Linked DNA regions of Homo sapiens. The protein of the gene in region 3 purifies or fractionates together with the protein of the main gene of each other region. This does not show direct contact. Each region holds a gene or a part of one and is shown on either strand. Other genes may lie near its edges.

Region 1 (4,847 bases), on a different chromosome or scaffold from region 3:
TTAAATCCCTTAATTTGAGCAGAAAAACAAAGACAAACTTTAGTTTACTTAATTGTATGAAGTAATGAAATCCAAATTGAGGTTTATTAGAATTCACTATTAGCCTTCAAAAAAACTGAATTAAGAAAATATTTAGAAAGGTCATTCATCATATGAGACAGCAGACTCCCCAACTATGAATTCCAGGCTGCTGAAACTCTACCACACCAAAAAAAGGGTGGGGGCTGGTATTGTTCTTTAGGAAGGAAGCTCTGTATAAGGGAGGTCTTACTGAAGAATCTGACTAGCTTTTATCATGGAAGAATTGTTATGAGTGGACAGATTTTCCCCATACGAAATTCTGAATCATAAATCTCATATTTTTTTTTGGTAAATCATACTCTCTCTGGGAGTACAGCAAGAAGAAGCATGTATAAACAAGCATTCTTAGGGAGTTCATGCAAATAAGACCAGATCCTGTATATTCCTTTGTATAAACATCACCTAGAGAATTTTCCCTGCCATTATAGGAGAAGTCCAAAGGGAGGGCTTTAGGAGGCAATGGATGAACCTGGAGACATACTCCAGGTATTCCCTGTTGTATGGATGTGTCATGAAGGAAACCAGTCCTGCAGTACTGAAATCTGATTTTAATATTCACATAGATAATATCTTGAATATCAAGAGTAGCTGAACAGCCCTAGCCTTTTCTACACTGAGAAAATGCTAATTACAAGTAGCCAAGTTTTAAATTTAATTTTCCCCTTTCAAGTGCAAAGCACAGAAAGAAAACTCTTCAGCAGAGGCAGAGCCAACTGCTGACATCAGACTTAAGGGGTTATACTCAGTCCCAGCTTCATGGCATCCAGCCCATCTGTCTTTGAAAACCTATTAATCATCAGCTCAGCAAGTACTCACTAAGCTCTATTACCACTTGGCTACCCATTACATTAGCTACTGGGAATTTTTAAAGAGTTTGGCTATATTTGCTCCTAAAGCTATTTTTAAGGGATAAAACACAAAATATGTACATAAATCCCACTATTCAACAATTTGTTTTAAAAAAGTATGTGCATATGTGTATAAATTTATTAAGTTTAATGCTGTCACTCTTACTACTCTCTTGCATTCCAAAATGGTGTCTTGAGTAGAAACATGAAAGTAAAGGGCAGCGGGTGCTATGGTAAGTTCCACACAAGCCCAAGTGGCTCAGAGGGTTTTTTCTTGTCAAGCCATGTGAACATCTTCTGGAGAAAAAGCTGTGAATCACTGAACTGACGAACATATCGCAGTATGTCCCTGCTTGCAAATTTTATATATTGCAGTATGTCCCTGCTTGCAAATTTTATATTGAATCAAGACTTAAATAGTTTGACCTAGTTAATTTTTTGCAAGATTGTTTCTGACAGAGACATAGTAGTTACTCATGGCACTTGATGGAACTGTGATCTGTTCTGGAACCCCAGCCCCACTTCACTCCCTGGAGCCACATGCCCTTCTTACCCATGCACATGGTCTGGTCCTGAGAAGCCTTAAAGCCATTGTGGCAGATGCACTGGTAACTTCCTTGCAGATCAACACACAAGCCATGACTGCAAACGTTAGGAATTTCTAAACATTCATTGCGATCTAAAACAGAAAAAAATAAATGTTACATGTATCTGATTTTTATTAAGATTTCTTCATTTTTCACAGTTGTGTTTCTCTAATCTGCTATTAATTATTATAGGCAGGCTGAAAATGAACCATAACAACAGCTGAATCAAAATGAGCAGGACTTCAAAGTATCCAACCCTCTTTTTTTAATCATGCAAATTTTTTTATGTTTATTGGTATCTGAAGGATATTATTTTATTTTAGGTCCAATCCTGGGGAAATCCATTGAAGAGATCTATTTTCTTAACAAAATCATCTAAAAGATATGGTGAAATAGGTTCACTATAAATGAACAGGTTAAGTGAGAAAATCTTTCCCAAATTATTCTTGAAGTATTTTTTGATAGGAAATCTAAGGAATCTTGTGCTCAGTGCCAAAGAATGAGTCAGCCTCTTTCTTACCTACACAGGCCCCATTGGGTGAAAGTTTGAAACCCGCGGCACATTCACAGCGGTAACTACCAGGACTATTGATGCAGTCTGCATTCCGCTGGCAGAGATTATCACCATTGCTGCACTCATCTATATCTGAAAGAGCAACAATTCCATTTTAAAGAGTCCTTTTTAGTATTGTATTAGCATTACATTCACGTCACACTTTGATGATCAACTCTTGAAAAATTGTAGAAGAAATAGTAAAAATCAGAAACCATCTAAATGCTATATATGTATACCAAATTATACTGGATAAAGGACATACTTTATTCAGATTACCTTCACAAACCAACAGCAGGTCATTGTAACTGAATCCTGTAGGGCATTCACAGCGGAAACTGCCAATCTGGTTAATGCACACACCATTTGCACAAATGCCTGGAATCTCTTTACATTCATCAATGTCTGAAATGGAACAGATTTGGTCAAATATATGTTGTTCTGTTTAATATACTTACCATATAACTTTGAATAATGCTACATGTACCCTGGGATGAGTACAAATATTCAGTGTCACAAAAATCTATTATATACTAGTATAGCTAATTTTTTTGGTTTATAAAAACATATATACCAGAAAATAGAAACAGTGATGGAAAAAATCTAAGTAGCTGATAAAATATACCAAGTAATTTCAGAGTCAATATAGCAAATGAACTTTCTAGGCAATCAAACCCCTTCTTCAGGTTACCCTAAGTGCTGCTATTCATTTGTTTAAAAAGCTATGTTTTCATCATTGTATGTATTTTATTTTATCATATATTCATAATGGAGACTTAAAATTATATTGCTTAGGCCAGGTGTGGTGGCTCACGCCTGTAATCCCAGCACTTTGGGAGGCTGAGGAGGGTGGATCACCTGAGGTCAGGAGTTCTAGACCAGCCTGACCAACATGGTGAAACTTCCATCTCTACTAAAAATACAAAAAATTAGCCGGGTGTGGTGGTGGGTGCCTGTAATCCCAGCTACTCAGGAGGCTGAGGCAGGAGAATCACTTGAACCTAGGAGACAGAGGTTACAGTGAGCTGAGATCGCGCCATTGCACTCCAGCCTGGGCAACAAGAGCAAAACTCCATCTCAAAAAAAAAAATTATATTGCTTATCAAATCTTTGAGGAAGGAAGCTAGAGTGAGCAACACAATGTACATTTAGAAGGAATTAATTAATATGAAAAATAAGTCTGCACATTCATATTTAGACCAGTAAAAAGGGATACTGCAAAAATACACCAAAAATTAAAAAATGTACTTAAGAAAATAGCAACTAAAGGTTAAAATAAGGTAGATTATTTAGAGTCATGTAATACAATGTGCATGACAAGGACAACTGAAGCTTTAGCTTGGTGGATGTGACAAATATCGAGAGAGTCACATAACTACCATAACCCAATCACCAGACTACGCTGATGGAGTATCATTATTAATACTTGGTTAGAGTCTGTAAGCCTGTTATTTCTCTCTTATCTAACTATATTAGATTGGATCCCAGATTATTATATTTTGTGGTACTCTTGAATTTTAAAAACATAGAATAGATTTTTACAGAATGCTACACATATGTATTAAAACAAACATAATCTGGAAAAACTCACCAACAGCTTTTCCTGTGTGAATGTCAAAGGTGAATCCAGGAATATTTCCACATATGGTTTTAAAGTCAGCTTTAAAATATAAACAAAGCAATGCACTCTTAAATTTCTCAAATTCCTTCAAAATAACATTTTGTATTACTTTCACAAACAAATATATTTTACATTATTCACAACCAGACATTTTGATTTCAATTATATTTATTTGATAGCAATGCCAGCTTCTGCTAGGAGTGGATCTAGGCATTCTTTACCATTATTATCATTGTTATTTCTATTACTCTCATTAACTTTTTACTGCTCTGATATCAGAAGGCAAGTAAATCATTATAAGATTCAAAATGTCCATTTAGATATTTAAATACTTTTTCTTTTAATATGCAGAGCTTTAAAAAACATCCAATACATAAAGATTAAAAAAAAAGAGAAGTACAAATTGAAAAAGGAATTACAGATTGCACAAAGGTATAGACATGCAAAAATAATGTTGTAGAGGGGAAATAGGTAAACAATGTATAATGAATGAGATGCGAATTTTGTCTTTTTTTTTTTTACTGTGTCTATTGGAATGTGAAATTTGAGTCATCAAAAACAATGCATTATGAAATAAAATAGGGACTATAAGAAGTATTCTTACACATAATTAACCAAATCAATGGAAATTTAAAAGAATTCTAATTTGCAAGATGAAAAATGCTTCTGACGCTCACTGCTATACAAGTGAGTAAAACTCCTGAAAACAGTATTATATAAAACTTAAACTGCATACTATATTCCAAGTGCTATCAGGTCAGGGATATTGTATATTTCATCCATCAATATATACCGAGTATTGAGAACAGATAGAAAGACCACAGATGCTCAACTTAATGGTTTCTAATTGTCTGGAAATCTTCAAATTATAATTTATATGTATAATCTCCCTAATTGTCATTGCACCCATATGAATTAGTCACTGTAATTATTTATTATTCCTATTTTATACATGAGAAATTAGTTTCAGAAAGGATACATACTCTGCAGGAGGTTCCACAATAAGTATCTTAAGAGTTTTGATTTAAATACAGACACGTCTCTCAACTCCAAGCCTTTCGCTTCTTCTCACAAAGAAAGTGCCATTTTAATTCCCCAAATCAATGATCTTAAATTTGTAACTATGGAGTTTTAAAGTTGAGAATTGTAGGAATGTT
Region 2 (5,244 bases), on a different chromosome or scaffold from region 3:
GAACCCAAGCTATGGATTCCAGAAGTACTTGGAAGGCTTGATGCCTTCTAGCTGACACCATAACCAACCCACAGGGGGCACAGGGGAGCACAGAGAGGATAATTTTGCCTTCATTTATGAAATGGGGATGGTCACAAAGATCAAAAATCACAATGAAGAGATAGCAGAGGGTGGAGCTAGCCAGAAATCGCATCCACTTACCTGCTATAACTTGGTTCAGTCCTTCTACCATCCAACAGTAAAAAATGAAACTGACATCCATTTGTAGAAGTTATAATTCAGATTTTTTTTTTCTTTTTCTTTTGAGATGGAGTCTTACTCTTCCATGCAGGCTGGAGTGCAGTGGTGTAATCTCAGCTCACTGCAATCTCCGCCTCCTGGGTTCAAGTAATTCTCCTGCCTCAGCCCCTCGAGTAGCTGGGACTACAGGTGCGCACCATCATGCCTGATTACGTTTTGTGTTTTCAGTAGAGATGGGGTTTCACCATGTTGGCTAGGCTGGTCTCAAACTCCTGACATCAAGTGATCTGCCCACCTTGGCCTCCCAAAGTGCTGGGATTACAGGCATCAGCCACAGTGCCCAGCCATAATTCAGGTTTGAATCAAGGATTCAAAGCAACCTATGTCCTAAAACAAGGTTTATGACTTTGTTTGAAAAAAAGAAACCATTTTAGATTTATTAGCAGTTAGTTGAAACAACAGATTTTGTGATTTTTGTCAGGTCTTGCCAAATGCATGTCAAATGTACAAGACCCTCATGTTTATGCAGATATTTGTGAGAATGTCTTTAACTGAGATCCAATCCTGTGAATAAAACCAGTCATGAATATACATGGAAATTTGCAAAGTCAAGTGTACAGCCCTTTTCTATCTCTCCAACCCTAACACTCAGAATAATATAGATCATCCTTTCCTAACTCATACGTAATGTCAGGCTCATACTGGGTTTCAAAAAAAGCATAATGAAGTAAATTGTTTTTTTTTTCTTCTCTCTTTTTTACAAAGTGTTATTTTAAATTGGCAAGGGGTAAATATCTGTCTTCAGCTATAAATGTGAAACTAATATTTCTGCCAGTAATGATCTTCTAACTTTAAAAACAATGTCCTTAAATCATTTAATAATTACATTCCTAATAATTACATTTCTAATACAGTTCTCTAAGAACTACAGTTAAAACCAGAATAAAATATATTCTGTGGACCAAGTTGATGGTAATTTTAAAATCCCTAACATTTATGGGTATATAACTTTTAAGGATACTAATGCAGCATCAACCCAATTGTCCTTTATTTTGGCTCATCTAATTTACAGACATGATTTCTGAAGTTTAACAGTATTTGTAATGGCAATATCCAAAGTGATTTTGGCTGAGTAAACTGCTATTTGTTGAACAAAAATGTAGTTGTTTGTGCAAGTTTAAACATTTCACAAGGCCAGCTGAGTTCATTTCAACCCTACTTACAAAATAATTATTGGCAAATGAAATGGGCTGAGGGGGTAGAGACAAGATATTTTCAAGCTTCTGAGAGATTTACAAAGCCAAGTTCTTCAACTATTGAAAGTGAAATTGAAAGGTCACAGACAATTGAAAGGTACAGGTTTAAATCTCAGGATTAAAAAGAGTTCCAACAAGAGGAATATTTACAATGGAACAATGAGGAAAATGTTTTGTTACAGTCAGAAACATGGAAAATATGCTGTTCAAAATTGTTGGCTCAGGAATAAATAAAATCCAGACTTGGACTATTAAAAATATCAAAGTGATCCACTGTGTGCCAACTCCATTTTCCCCTGTTGTTTGTTATAAAGAAAATCCGTTATTGAATATAATGCAGTTCTGGTTAAATTATCAAAGACATTTTCCATATGCAAACTGTTGTTTACCATATGCTATATATTCTTCGATAACAATTTTAATACACCTCTATCACATGGTTCCATAGGTGCAGCGTTAGAAGGAAATTTTGAGTTATATTTTAATCTCTTACCCAAGGTACAAACCCCCTTTGTAACAGCCATTCAGCTCATTCTGTTGAGCACCTATTATAAACAAAATTAGAGATACAAAAATACCTTTAAGATGTTAATGGCCTGTTAGGTGGAAGAAAGCATCTTTGTCCAATGGTTGCCATTAAGCCTAGACTGAAACTCTTCTATCTTGTGACAGGGAGCTCACCACAATGCAAGGAAACCCATTCTTTCAGTGAGTAGCTCTATAATTGGGACCGTGTGTATTAAACTGGGGCTGACATCAGCTGACCCTGGTTTTGCCTTCCGGAATAGTATGAGCCAAATCTACTCCATTTTTTTCAGCTGAGCTCTTCAAAGATTTTTGAGAGCACTTTCCTGTGTCCTACCTAGTTTCTCCGCCCACCACCTTCATGCCATCTTATTTCCTCTTATTTTCACTACCACGAAATGCTTTCCTGCCCTTAGGGATTTAAAAAATTATTTCATATCGACGGATTGAGCCTAACAGCTAAATACTCAATATTGCACTTAAAATAAAACAGACTTTAAAAATTATGACATTAAGAAACCAAAAGTTACAGCAATTGGATACAGTCTGGGATTATCCCTTTGTAATTAGATGAGCATTGACTAACGAAAGATGTTTAGGGGAAAAAAAAATGGAACAGAACACCTAAGGCTTGCCAAAACTGTGTATATTTGAGAGGGGGGCATGATAAATCTATTATAATGAAATTCATGTGCTCTAAGACAATGACTGAACTTGGTATTTAAGACTATTTAAAAGTCACAAGATGAATTAGGTCATGTTTCAGAAATGACTCTACAATCTAAATTTCTCACAAGCAAGTCAGGTTAATGACACCAGACTCTGCTACTTTCAATGGATAAAACAAGGGATCGACTCATATGTTAAATTTTCTTCTAGTGGTTATACATTTGGTACTTTCATAAGCCATAAGTAAGAGACCCAGGATAATTTAAATCCAGGAGACTTTATTTAGCCTCCGGAATGGCCCCTCCAACCCCAAATCCATGCAAGAACACAAAGCCAAGGGGTAAACTAAAAAAAAGAAGAGATTGTTTTATTGTGACATTTATGACATTGACCCCTTGTTGACAGGAATGACCGAGGGTAATCTTGGCATATTGCACATGCTGTGATGAAGGATGCACTGGTGATCCTCTGGCCACTGAGGCTGTTTCCTGGTCCTCCCAGACCTCTATGCACGTGTGGGCCAGTCACCGAAATTTCATTACCACTTGGTGTATACATTTAACAAGTCTTTGGTCTTAATAAGCACCATTACAAACCCTCACATTAAGGGCATTATTATTCTAGTTTATAAATGTTTCAATGATAAAAAATAGCACGATTACAGTATACACACACTTAATTTACATGTAATGTATTATACTCATAACTGAGATAAGCTACTGAACTAACTTTGGTTGATTGAAATTAATGAAGTATTGGAACTGAATACTTGTAATTTGGTTTCTAAGTTGTGTACATATTACAGTGCATTTATAAATCTAGTTTGAAAATTTACTAGCACCAAATAGGTACCATAAATGGACAACCTAGTACTTGTATTTGGAGAAGCAAAGTTTACAAATTTGCAAAAAATAGAGTAGTCCATCAATTGAAAGCACATTCCCGTACGTTTGCTGGAAGGATGGCATGTCAGCATAAATGGCCAACCCCCAATGGAAATACACGTCCCAGTTTTCAAGAATCAACACATATGACAAGGTAGCTTAGCTACACACATGAGAAGCCTGAGAAAGTGGTTGTTTTGAACTAGGGTAGTCACCTGTACCTTGCTTTGGTAATACAAAGAATAGTGCTTATTTATACAAATTTACTTGGTGAAAGATTGTACCTATGATATGATGATTCTGATTGGGGGAAAATATAGTTCTACCTATCTATATTTGTTTTTCTTTTAATTATTTGGTCTCTGGATGGTGAATTAATGAAGCAAAACCTGGATTTTCATCTTCAGATTATCACCCAGTTCACCACTGAGGTAGTCTTTGTCATATTTGTCTTCTAGTTGGTTAAGTTCTTTCTTTTTATAAAGTGGAGTACTACTGATTTGTAATGAATAGGTTCCAGCCACTGGCTTCTTCTTTGTGAAGTGGAGGTAGCTGATCCCTTCCTTTTGGTTGATTTTAAAGAAGCCATCTTCATTTCCAGATTCGATCAAGTATCTGTTGTGATTCGTCAGAGTTGTAAGAGCTGGAAGGAGTTCTAGGATTCGAACCTTGTTACTGACGTGGGAAATATTGAAAGCAAAGATGGCTGTCTTCTCAACATCCCAACTTGCAAGACTCACATTGGCTTCTGTCTCAGACTGATCCTGGAAAGACACATGGCAATATGTTAAATACAATGTACATATGCCACTTAGCTCTCATATTAAAGAAAAAATGACTCAAATTTCACACTAATACAATTTTCTGCCTTATGCTGCATACACAATATTGAAAGCATTTTGTTTAGACCACAAGTGTATTAAATTGGCACATATTTGTAATATTTGAAAATATTAACTGATGTCAGGAAGAAAGGCAGGTTGAAATCATTTGTATCTGGAGGTCTCAAAATGTAGTCCCTGAACAAGCTGCATCAGCATCACCTGGGAATCTGTTAGAAATGCAAATTCTCGGCATCACCCCAGAACTACTGAATCAGAAACCCTGGGATGTCTCCCAACAATCAATTTTAACAAGACCTAGTAGGTGATTCAGATGCATGCTAAAGTTTGAGAACCACTGTTTTAATAGATTATGTTCTTTCCAAAGACTTATCTCATTTCTTAAATGACAGCAGATGGGTTGCAGCACCAATACGAAGAACCAGACTATTTCAATTTGATTCATTGACGTAAAACCATCTTCTCCTAAGGACACACCTATGAGCCTACTTCCTGACTGTGATGATCTGCTAATATTCAATGCTTTTCACCTGGCTTCTTACTTGCCTCTCTGGGACCACATGTGCTGGATTCTATGGGCCCAGAGCCAGAGGTCTGGGTGAATATCTGTGCACTTCTGAGTTGACTGAAAGGCTGCAGCAGCCGTAGGCAAAGGAAACCAGGCTGCTTCAGCTCCACGTTATTTTTGTCTACAATCCAAGTTCCCTCACACTCCACATGGCTCTTTTCAGTAGAGGAGCCTCTAGCTTTCAGAACTTGGCATTCCTATGTAGGGAGCACTATGTCACTTCGCTATTCTGCCCACTTGCTGTCCTGGATCTCAGACCT
Region 3 (5,847 bases):
GATCATGCCACTGCACTCCAGCCTGGGTGACAGAGCGAGACTCCATCTCAAAAAAAAAAAAAAAAAAAAAAAAAGAAGATCTGAGCATCTGGCCCAGGCACCAGCAAGTACCCAATGAAGTGTTTGTCCAGTACTGACTGGACTGAGTCCCGCACAACTGAGCTGTGTCGCTGGTCCTCCCTGGGCCTCAGTTTCCCCTTCTGCCTGGAAGTGGGGCAAAATGAGCTGTCTGATCAAACACAAAGGCCGACAGCCCTGATCTCCACTCCTCCTTCTCCAGCTCCTTCTGGCTCCCATTTCCCTGAGCCTGGCTGGTGGACCCTGCCTGGAACGGATCCTGGGCTGGCCCTAGTGGGCCTCTGCGGGGGTGGGATCACAGCAGGTTTCCTCCAATTCTCAGATTGATGGAAGGAAGGAAGGGAGGGAGGGAGGGAGGGAGGGAGGAAGGAAGGGAAGGGAGAAAGGGAAGGAAGGGAAGGAAGAAAGGGAAGGAAGGAAGGAAATGAGGTTGATGGATGGCACTTTGTCCATTCTAGGCTTTTCTTATATCTGTGTCTGCCTTCCCCATGGCGTGTGAAGCTGCCTGTCTCCCTGAAATCTGGAGGCGCACTGACCCGGGCACGTAGTTATATAACTCGCTATTTTCAGCTCAATGCAGCAACATTTCCTGCTACTGGGATAAGTTTGAGAAGTGTTGGCCTCTGGATACAGCTCTAAGTCAATCCTTAGTTGGGTGTTCAGCCCTGTGCAGAATGAACCCTGCTTCCCTCTGCCCCTGTTTCACGCCTAACATATGCTGTTTCTGTTTCACTAACTCCTACATATCCTTCAAAGCCCTAGCACTAATACCCTCTTCTCTTTGCAACCCTCCAAGACCCTCTCCCTGAGACTAATGAGTTGTTCGCTCTGGACCAATTCTGACCACAGGAGACCAGACTACTCACCCCCATGGAAGGGCACCCACTGGTAGGTCTTCTGGGTGCCCAGGACAGGGCGGCCATTGTACAGGGCACACTGTAGGTCTCGGAAGGGCACAGCCCCTGGGGGGCAGTCCTAGGGACAGAGATAGGTGAGCCAGAGGCTGGGACAACCCCAAGGGGCAGGTGGTGGGCTTCAGGCAGTCTGGGGTGGGAGAGTGGTCTGGGAGGTGGGCAGGGCTTACTGGCAACTGGCAGAGGCGGTACTCATGGGAGTCTCCCCAGCACGGTTCTTCCCCAGGAAGCCTGAAGGGAGACAGAGTGTGGCGAGAACCCCCAGGGACCCCCTCCCAGGGCTGGCCTTCCACCCTCCGCCCCCGCCAACCCCACCCGCATTCCAGCGGGATCAGGGGGATTAAAGGGCACAGCATGTGTGGGCAGGCCGAGGGTGCGGCCAGGGGCCGGGCTGGGCCGGCGGGGGAGGAGGGGCAGGGACCCCCTCCGGGCCCCGCTCACCGGAGGCAGCGCCGGCTGCGCACAGAGACGCCACGCCCGCAGGAGCTGGAGCAGCGGGTCCAGGACACCCACGGGGTCCACTCGCCCGGACCCTACTTGGGGAGACAGAGGCACGGTCAGCCTTGTAGGGGGACGCTGGTGACCCCACACTGCTGACTGGGTCCCCATTCCCACTCGCCACCCCCTGGGCTCATGCCCCCCCTTACCTGAGCACTGACCCCCAAACCACAGTTCAGCAGGGCCCACAGGAAGAGCAGGAGGTTCTGGAAGAGGTGGGGCCTGGGGAACAGAGGGGCCGAGTCCATAGAGCCACCGCCAGAGACACAGGGTTGTGTCCCGGCTCTGCCCTGACTGGCTGTGTGATCTTGGAAAGTAACTAAACCTCTCTGAGCCCTACCTCTCGTCTCTGAAAAACGGGGTAATAGAGCCTCCCTTACAGGAAAGTTGAGGGGTCCTGTGGATCAGGTAAAGAAGACAGGAGACGTGGAGCCCGGTATGGAGAGGAAGAACTCAGAATGTCATCTGCAATTATTATTGTTGTTAGTTAGTTTGTTTTTGAGACGGAGTCTCGCTCTGTCGCCCAGGCTGGAGTGCAGGGGTGCGATCTCGGCTCACTGCAACCCTCCCCGGTTCAAGTAATTCTCCTGCCTCAGCATCCCGAGAAGCTAGGATTACAGGTGCCTGCCACCACGCCGGACTAATTTTTGCCGTTTTAGTGGAGACAGGGTTTCACCATCTTGGCCAGGTTGGTCTCAACCTTCTGACCTGAAGTGATCCACCTGCTTTGGCCTCCCAAAGTGCTAGGATTATAGGCATGAGCCACTGCACCCAGCCTACAATATTATTGATATGTGTATTGTGCTATAATGCAGACAGTAGGTGCTTAATCGATGCTTGATGATTGGAGGGATCATTCAAAAATAGTACACAGGTGCCTCCTAGGGCTGGGGCCCCCTCCCCGCCCTCCCCACCATCACTGCTTCTACCTTTCCGTGTGGCCTGAGGCCAGCCACTCCACTCTCCCAGGCCTCAGTTTCCCCATCTGTGCAGTGGGGGCCAAGTGGACTCAGTCCATGATTCTGTGACACCCTGCGGAAGGTGCGGCCGGCAGGGGCTGGATCAGGAGTTGGGTCCCTAGAAGAGGCCCTCAGCTGCACCCCGGCCCCAGGGCTCCCTCAGCTCCCAGACAGCAGGGAGTCCCCCGGATTGGGGATGGGACAGGGAGGGGGTGACCTGGCCCAGGTCCGTTCGGTGCCTCATGGCCTCATCGGCGGAGGGGGTGGGACTGAGCTCCGGGGCAGCCCGTGGAGGGAAGGGGCCACTGCTGAGGCTGGAGCAGGGAAGGGGAGGAGGCTGACTGCCTCTCTGGGCCTTAGTTTCTCCATCCTGTCAGGGCAGGGATGAAGTCACTTGCCATCCACACCCTCCTCATGACCCCAGCCTGCAGGGGGAAAGAGGGGGGAAGGGAAGCAGCCGCCAAGTGAGCCAGGGCGTCCTGCTGCCAGCAGAGCCTGAAGGCAGGTGGGTGAGCCCCGGCCCGGGCACCAGCTGGGGAAGAGGCTGGGTCCCACCTGGACCCTGTTTCCCTGGCTCCAGCATTTGGACTTCTGAGGCACCAAGGGTCTAGGGTCCTGGGTATCTCTAGGTACTGAGACAGCTGTGTGGTCTGCTGCATCCGTGCCCCTCTCTGAGCCTAGAGCCTGGGCTGGCCCAGGAAGCAGGAAGAAGTCTGCACCAGAAACTTAAAACAAGGGGAGGGGGGCCAGGTGCGGTGGCTCACGCCTGTAATCCCAGCACTTTGGGAGGCCAAGACAGGCGGATCACCTGAGGTCAGAAGTTTGGGACCAGCCTGACCAACATGGTAAAACCCCATCTGTACTAAAACACAAAAATTAGCCCGGTGTGGTGGTGCACACCTGTAATCCCAGCTACTTGGGAGGCTAAGGCAGGAGAATCGCTTGAACCCAGGAGGCGGAGGTTGCAGTGAGCCGAGATGGGGCCAATGCACTCCAGCCTGGGCGACATAGTGAGACTCAGTCTCAAAAACAACCAACCAACCAAAAAAAACAGGGGGAGGGGGCTTGACCTTCTGACCACCCCCACCGGACTCTAAGCCTGGTTTGAGGAGTGGGGGTCTAGGTGGTGAAAAGTGGGGGGCTACAAGGACCACCCTACCCCCTCCTCAATGGGCCCTGCCCAGAATCAAGGCTCTCCCCTCCCCGTGTGGGCTGCAGCCCGGACTGGCGGAGGGATCTCAAGGCAAGCCGCACCTCTGGGCCTCAGTTTCCCCCGGAGAAAGTGGGAGGATAGGCAGATGGACTTACCGGCTGCGCGGAGCCCAGGCAGCGCGTCCCGGCTCCCTGAGCGGCCCCAGGGCGAGCGGAAGCGGCGGGGCCCAAGGTGCTGGGCGGGGTGGGGAGCCTGGGACGGTCCCTCCCACCGCGGCCTCCGCAGGCGCGCCCAGGCCCGGGTCAGGAGGGGCGGCGGCCCCGGGCGCCCTCGCGCGGCGGGCGCGGATCTGCGGCAGGGGACTGCCCGGCGGACGCGAGCGCAGGGGTCCCGGAGCCGCAGGCTGGTGTCGGGCGCCCGGGTCCGGGTGACCTTGGCAGGCTCGGGCGGGGGCGCGGCGCGGGGACTGACCGCCCTCCTCTGCCCCGGGGCTGCTATTCCGGGCGCCGCGCTCAGGGCCCGGGAATGTGCGCGAACCGAGGTCACCCCGCCCTGGGTCTGGGAGTCCCGGGCGCTGCCCCTACCCCGCCGACGCCCGGATTGCGTCCCACCGGCGTCCCCATCCCCGGTCACAGCCCCCTCCCCTGGTCCTGCCCCTCACCCCTCTCGCGGGGGGTCGACCTGCTCGTGGATGGGGACCCTGGCGCGCCTGGGCTCCCATCCGGGGGTTCCCCGACCCAGGTCCCGGTCACCCCCAGCGCAGGGCCCCAGCGCACTGGGGAGAGGCTCGGCCCCGTGGGCCGCGCGCGGGGGGCGGAGAGACCCTCCCAGCTGGCGCATTCCCGGGCGCTGCTGTCACCAGGGGACGCGCCCCACCCCGCCTCCCGCCCTCCCTGCCGGGCCCCGGGGCTGCCAGCGGGGCTTCAGAGCCAGACCCGGGTCCAGGCGGTCCCTCTCCCTCACAGCCGCGGCCACACCCTCTCCGGCCTCAGTTTCCCCATCCCAGCAGTGGGCCCGGCAGGGATCTCCACCGCGAACCTTCCATCTGGAATCCGGCTCTGCGCGGACCGGCAACGCGAGGGGGCACCCCGGGACTCCCCCCACCCCACCCTTTCCCGCCGGGCGTCTGTGAGCCGCCCCGTGCCCACCCACGCAGGGATGAGACCAGGCCCTGGGTTCTGGGCTCCACCAGTTTCTGGTGTCGCCCCACGGCGCCCCCTGGCGGGCGGGCTGAGGGACTGGGGCACTAAAGGAGGGGGTGGAGGGACTGTCCTGCTCCCTGGGCTCCACCCAGGCTCGGTCTGAGCACCCCCTCCTCCAGGAAGCCCACCCTGCTGTCCCACAGCGCTGACCACAGGGAGAGAGGTTTGCTGGGGACATACAGGGTGTTGCTGGTCCAACTCAGTCTGCCCTCCAGCCTGTAGCATGTCAGCAGAGCCACCCATATGCCATTTATTGAGCACCTACTGTGTGCACAGCTGTGAACAACCCAGCCAGTCCCAGGCCAGCGGGTAAGGCAGCCCCCTGGAATGTATGACCCCCCACCTTCTGACCTGGACTATTGGAGAAAATAGCCCAGGCCCACCACTGATGGCCCCAGGTTGGGGGGTGGTGGTTGCGGGGATGTCAAGAAGGCCCTCACTGAAGGGGTCAAGAGAGAAGGGCAGGCCGGGCGCGGCGCCTCATGCCTGGAATCCCAGCACTGTGGGAGGCCGAGGCAGGCGGATCACCTGAGGTCAGGAGTTTGAAGCCAGCTTGGACAACATGGTGAAACCCAGTATCTACTAAAAATATAAAACTTAGCCAGGCATGGCGGTGAGTGCCTGTAATCCCAGCTACTCGGAAGACTGAGGCACGAGAATCGCTTAAACCCGGGAGGCAGAGGTGGCAGTGAGCCGAGATCACGCCACTGCACTCCAGCCTGGGAGACAGGCGAGACTCCGTCTCAAAAAAAAAAAAAAAAAAAAAAAAGGAAAGAAAGAAAGAAAGAAGTCAGCTCAGGACATGTGTCAATGTGTCATTAGGACAATTGTATCCTCCTCAGATGTGCCCCATTCCCAGATGTCCAGTCCACAGAGCTCCACTGGGAGTGCAGACAGCAGGCCCTGTGCCCCGCAGGGAAGGTATACAGAAAGCACAGCGCCCACAGGGAGCACACACAGCAGGCATTATGCTCTGCAGGAAGGGTATACAGCAGGTGCTGCATCTTGTAGAAATGCATAGAGTAGACTCTGCCCTGCAAAGG

The links.
Region 1: the proteins of ADAMTSL5 (region 3) and FBN2 purify together in Homo sapiens (pull-down; one study listed by IntAct). This does not show direct contact.
Region 2: the proteins of ADAMTSL5 (region 3) and FBN1 purify together in Homo sapiens (pull-down; one study listed by IntAct). This does not show direct contact.

What each region holds. Positions count from the first base shown.
Region 1 is NC_000005.10:128,303,475-128,308,321, forward strand, and holds part of FBN2 (fibrillin-2 precursor), read right to left. Parts: intron 3,730-4,847; coding exon 3,661-3,729; intron 2,475-3,660; coding exon 2,349-2,474; intron 2,163-2,348; coding exon 2,037-2,162; intron 1,609-2,036; coding exon 1,483-1,608; intron 1-1,482.
Region 2 is NC_000015.10:48,407,042-48,412,285, forward strand, and holds the end of FBN1 (fibrillin-1 isoform a preproprotein), read right to left. Parts: intron 4,339-5,244; coding exon 3,949-4,338; 3' UTR 1,272-3,948; downstream 1-1,271.
Region 3 is NC_000019.10:1,509,206-1,515,052, forward strand, and holds the start of ADAMTSL5 (ADAMTS-like protein 5 isoform 2 precursor), read right to left. Parts: upstream 3,815-5,847; 5' UTR 3,758-3,814; intron 2,523-3,757; exon of another isoform or gene 2,476-2,522; coding exon of another isoform or gene 2,420-2,475; intron 1,956-2,419; 5' UTR 1,739-1,955; coding exon 1,640-1,738; intron 1,529-1,639; exon of another isoform or gene 1,526-1,528; coding exon 1,434-1,525; exon of another isoform or gene 1,349-1,433; coding exon of another isoform or gene 1,224-1,348; coding exon 1,163-1,223; intron 1,054-1,162; coding exon 945-1,053; intron 1-944. UniProt on the Homo sapiens protein: May play a role in modulation of fibrillin microfibrils in the extracellular matrix (ECM).